Linked DNA regions of Homo sapiens: region 1 is linked to region 2. A link means that fine-mapping ties the variant in region 2 to the expression of a gene that starts in the linked region. Tissue or cell type: whole blood. Region 2 holds a variant in brackets; the other region holds the start of a gene. All regions are shown on one strand. Distances are from middle to middle.

Region 1 (2,650 bases), 78 kb after region 2:
GCCTGGGTGACAAAGCAAGACTCCGTCTCAAAAACAAAAACACTGTGGTTGTATTTCTCAGATAAATTAATCCAAATATCCCAATAAATTTTCACCATTAATAAGCTCTTAGGACTTAACAACCTCACCAGCCCTTCCAGAAAGTTATCAAAATCCCACTTCTTTACTTCTATAAAACAGAGCGATACTAGCCAGCAGGTGCACAAACCAAACCTAATTTGGAGTTCTGAGGCCTTGAGCAAATTGCTTTTTAGCAATTTTCCCAGCGTTGAATCCTTTGGTGAGTAAAACGAGGGAAACTCAAAGTGATTCCACACTCTGTGGTGAATTGTCTCCTTCATCTATTCTGTGTATCCTGCTTGGGTAGAGAAGAGGATAGAAAGCCAGACTAGGTAGGAGACGTTTCATTTTTTGTGGGATAGATCCTGACTGGGGGATTAGGGAAGAAGGAGGATCTATGGTGGAAAAAAAGGGGGAACCTGAAGGAGACTCTGGAGACAAGGATGAGATCCTAAAGTGAAGAAAGGAGGGGGTGTCTCTGGAAAGACAGTGAAGATCCCAAGGTCCTAGGGAAAGAACTTCAGGACAGGTGATTAGGGTGTGGAGAGGGAGGCATTGGCACCCTAGGGCCAAGAATGGAATTCTGGGGAAGGAACTCTGTGGAAAGACTGAAAAGGATGCTGAAGGTGGACGGCCAGATATGAAATCATGGAGGGGGCTCCGGGAAAAACAGGAGGGTTAAGGGAGATTATGAGGTTCGAAGACGGGATCCTGGTGGAAAAGCCTTCTGTGACAGAAAGACCCGAGGAGACAACGAGGGCGGGGAATGGGGACCGAGAGAGCCAAGAATGGCACCCTGGCGGAAGAATTCTGTGGAGAAACCTGGAGGGAGGGGGTATCTACAAGGTGGGGGCGGGAGACCCCTAAAATCAGCGATCTGACTTACTTTCTCCGCTGGACTTGTACTGCTTTAAACACATCTTCACGTTTCAGCACCACGAAGTCGCCGTCGCGGATGCGGTGGTCTCCGGGATGCTGTGGTTGTGGGCCCGGCTGCTCCCCTGAGCCCTCCATGACGCTCAGCCGGTCGCCGTGCTCCACGGCGTCCCGCCCCTCCTCCTCGGTTGTCGCCACCGCCAGCCTCACTTCCCACAACCTGGCGCACTAGGAGCCCTCCGACCGGCACCGCCCCCACGTGTTGCACGCCGCTTCCGCTTTCCGGCCCAGACCTCAAGACCGCTTCCGGAAGCCTCTCGGCTTCCGTCTGGCCAAACTCCTTGATTGGCTGCACTCCGCCCCGCCCCTCTCGTCTTGCCGCTTCTTTGAGCGGAAGTTGGATCACTGAAGCGCCAAAAAAGAATTTAGGGGAAGACCTGATTTTCGCTTGAGGCATTTTTGCGGCGCTGTGCGCTACAGACACCTTCTGGAAGCTGCGGTGGGGAAACTGAGTTTCCCGAGCCGTTGAGACAGATGGGGTTCAGCACCGCGCGGGGACGACAGGAAAGCTGCGGCTGAAGAGAACTGCGGACTTGGCAGGAGTCGCCTGAGGAGCTAAGATCCCGGAGACTCTTAGCCCCGTGGTGCTTCTCTACGGGAGGGAGGGAGGGAGAATCCGGCCGGACAGATCTGCGCGTATCCTGGAGCCGGCCCAGTTGTGAACTAGGAGAGCTTTGGGACCTCTGTCCCAAGCAAGTAAGAACTTTAGCCTTAGGAGATGTAAATAAAGTAGTATTTGAAGAAGCACAGGTACCCAACTGTTTCTTTTTACTCTTTCTCCAGTCCTACTTCTTAACGTTTTTTTGAATTTGTTACTGTTCTCAGCATATTGTCTCGTTTGAGAAGGGTATGGCACGCAGCGTTGTTGAAGGAGCGCCTCAGCTTGGGAGGCTGAAAGTTTTATCTCTGTACTGTCGACAAACAACTTTGATCTTGATCGGTTTGCTTAATTTCTTTGAGCATCAGTTTCATAATGTGTAATGCCTAATTATTGGAGCCCTGTCATGCCGTTAAATCGTGAACTTTCTAGTTACTATCTTGTTTTATTAACTAAACCCCTTTTAAGTAAGGATTTGGGTAGAGTATTTGATAATGAATTGCACTGCAGCGTACAGGTATATCTTTATTTACTTGTATACTTAGGATATGAATCATTTTTAAGTAGACGTGTATTTTATAAGAACAGTTTTGGATTTACAGAAAAACTGCACAAAAAATGGATGTGACACTGCAGGATTGACTGTATGTAAGAAGCTATGATGATGTATCCCTAGTGTCTCACAGGCCAGAATTATGTTCATCCTGTCCTGCCCTATAATAAGAAGTCTCAAATACTGCAAATAAGTTTTCATAGAGTTAATTACCTGTCCTATTTTCATTTCTGTAATGGGGACTTGTAAACAGGTACAGTACCTGTCCTTATTTTTAACCTGTGAGCGTCTAGTATACGTAAACCATATTTAATAGTTATTAAACTATTATGGTATACCTTAAAAAGCGATAGAGATTAGAAACTTAACTGCAGAATATTTGGGTCTTGTATCATAGCTGTACAACTTTGCAAGCCTGTTTGCTACTCTTGAACCTAGAATACATTAATTTTTCCCTTTTTATTAATACATTTTTAAGAGCACTATTTTCCTTACAGTTTTGG
Region 2 (2,845 bases):
ATTTTCCCACTATCTCATATCCTCAAGCCCTCTCCTTTTTCCTCTCTCTTTTTCACCATATATTTAAAGGTCTTCATTATTTTAAGAAAATTGTGCACACACACATATTCATGCACTTTTAAAAACTTGATTTAATCATGGTTTACTTCTGTTCAGCTTTTCCTCTCCCCTTTGGTACCATCTTCTAGACCCACAACCAAAACACAAGAAGCTGCTGGAATTTGGAAGACCTAGGTTGGGAACCCCTGGCTTAAACCAACAAGCATGTGGTAAAAATCCTGAGGCAACTTCCAGTTTCAGGAGAAGATGTTATAGACTTACTTTTTCTGGCTTCTTGTTAAACACAACCAAGTACCACGGAAAGAATTCAGCAATCATAAAAGGACTCTGAATGGCAGAAAGAAGATGGATGGACTAGGGACTCAGGACTTGAAGAATAACCCAACAGTTGGTTTTCTGGATTTTCTTTATCTTCCATATATCCTGGACACCAGCCAGCCTGAAACCACAGACAGGCATAGGAGAGAGAAAGAGAGGGAAGGGAGGGGAGGGAAGGGGGAAGAAGGGGGAAGGGGGAAGAAGGGGGAAGGGGGAAGGGGGAAGAAGGGGGAAGGGGGAAGGGGGAAGAAGGGGGAAGGGGGAAGGGGGAGGAAGGGGGAAGAAGGGGGAAGGGGGAAGGGGTCTTCTCCCTCTGGCTAAGGGACCAGGAAAGGAGAACTCAGTGAGGAGAGCCACACCCAGTGGCAGTGGTGGACCCAATCTGCTCACAGCACTAGCACCAGCAGAAATGAGCTTCCAACCACTCCCCTACTCCACAGCCACAGACAGCAGCAGGCCAGTATCCCTGCAGCAGTGGCAACAGAAGAATCCAAACGGGCCAACCCACTTCACATCCCATCTCCACCAGCAGCAGGGGGCTCAATCTGCCCGTATTAGTGGTAACAGTGAAACCCATGCAGGCCAGGTCATCTACTGCTCCACACCAGGTGACAGCAGGTAGGCTCCTTCACTTGCACAAGCAGTGCCAGCAGGTCTGGTGTCTTTCAGCCATTCACGCAGAGGCAGAAGGCGATCTAGGGCATCCCCCACACCCACATAATGACACCAGTCAACCTAG[A/G]GCAGTGCCTTCTGCCTCTGTAGGCACCATATGTAGCAACCCAGTAGGAGCTTAAGCAGAGCCCCAAGAGCAAAGCAGACCAGAATAGCACTGCGAAGGCTCAGAAAACACAACTGTCGTTAAAACTATAGCCCACAAAAGTAGGCAAAACTGACACCATAAACCTAAACAGGGCGGTTGCCTGCTAAAATAGAAGATTTATACAGAATCAAGAGTCTCGTAACATAATGTGCAGAATGTCCAGGATACAATTGAAAATGACTTGTCATACCAAGAACCAGGAAAATCACAACTGGAGCGAGAAAAGGCAATCAGCTGACATTGATAGTGAGATGAATCAGATGGTGGAACTATCTGCAAAGATTTTAAAGCAACTCCCATAATGTAGTTTCAGTAAGCAGTTATAAAATCCTTTGAAACATGAAAAAATAGAAAACCTCAGCAAATAAATAGAAGTTACAAAAAGAACCAAATGGAAATCACAGAATTGAAACATGCAGCAACAAAATTTAAAAACTCACCAGGTGGGCTCAGCGGTAGCGTGGAGATGACAAAAGATAAAGTCACTGACCTTGAGGACAATTCCACTGAATTTATTCAATTTGATCAACAGAGAGAAGACGGATGAGGTAGAGGATGGGAGGGAAGGAAGGAACTACGAGACAATAACAGAAGACCTAACATTCAGAGCCCCAGAAAGACTCCAGAAAGATTTGAGGGCTAAACAAGTATTCAAAACATAAGGGCTGAAAACTTCCCAAATTTGGTGAAAGACAGAAACCTACAGATTCACAAAGCTAAGTGAACCCGAAATAGGACTGATCAAAAGAAATCCTCACCAAAACACATTATAATTAAACTTCTGAAGATGAAAGAAAAAAATCTTAAGAGCAACCAAGGAGGAATGCATTATCTATAGGCAAATACCAATTTGAATGAGAACAGATTTTTCATCTGAAACCAGGGAGGCCAGAATGAAGTGGCTCAACATTTTTCAAGTGCTGAAAGAGAAGAACTGTCAACCATGAATTCTACATACAGTGAAACTGTATTTTAAGAATGAAGGAGAAATAAGACAATGTGTGGCCAGCAGTCCTACCCTTAAAGAATGCCTAAAGGAAGCTCTCCAAACAGAAAAGAAATGCCAAAAGAAGACTGGAAGTTCAGAAAAGAAAGAACAACAGAAGGGATAAAAAGAAAAGAAAATATAATAGACTATTCTTCTCCTTATGAGTTTCTTAACTCATATTTGATAGCTGAGGCAAAAAATACAACATCTATTGTGGTGCTTAATAGATGCAGAGGAAATACTTGAGGTAATTATACTTAAAAAGAGAGGCAGGTTACAATATCATGATGTAATAAAAGATACATATTTGTCTCTGGCTCTAGTTTCTCGCACAGAGCTGCTAAAACCATTGTAAAGTCCTGAGCAAAAGACATGCCAAGTGCATCTTTTGTTCTAATATTTGGTCTTTTTTTTTTTTTTTTTTTTTTTTTTTTAGATGGAGTCTCACTCTGTCGCCCAGGCTGGAGTGCAGTGTAATATTTGGTCTTTAAGCCCAGGTCCTGACACAGAGCTCCTAATACCATGGAATTTCCTGGGGGATGGGAGGGTCTTTTGTTCTATTGAGGCAACTCTTGGTGGATTCCTAGGTGGAGGCTGGTGACCAGAAAGACCAAGCCATAAGTAGAAGCTTGAAACTTTCAGCCCCACCTCCCATTCTC

What was found. PIP is the estimated chance that this variant, and not a neighbour inherited with it, causes the effect.
Region 1: it holds the start of TRMT6, and the variant in region 2 is fine-mapped to the expression of TRMT6 in whole blood (INTERVAL, PIP above 0.99). The same link has a PIP of 0.9 or more in neutrophils.

What each region holds. Positions count from the first base shown.
Region 1 is chr20:5,949,332-5,951,981 of GRCh38, forward strand. TRMT6 (tRNA methyltransferase 6 non-catalytic subunit) reads right to left here and starts at 1,202. Exons shown (of 11, transcript NM_015939.5): 1 at 947-1,202. The coding sequence starts at 1,074. It overlaps MCM8 (minichromosome maintenance 8 homologous recombination repair factor), which reads left to right and starts at 1,321. Exons shown (of 19, transcript NM_032485.6): 1 at 1,321-1,692. RefSeq lists an enhancer at 1,198-1,337.
Region 2 is chr20:5,871,180-5,874,024 of GRCh38, forward strand. No RefSeq gene overlaps it. Among named protein-coding and RNA genes, the nearest start is that of CHGB, 39 kb to the right of the region's middle. The variant A/G (reference allele first, on the strand shown) is at 1,118.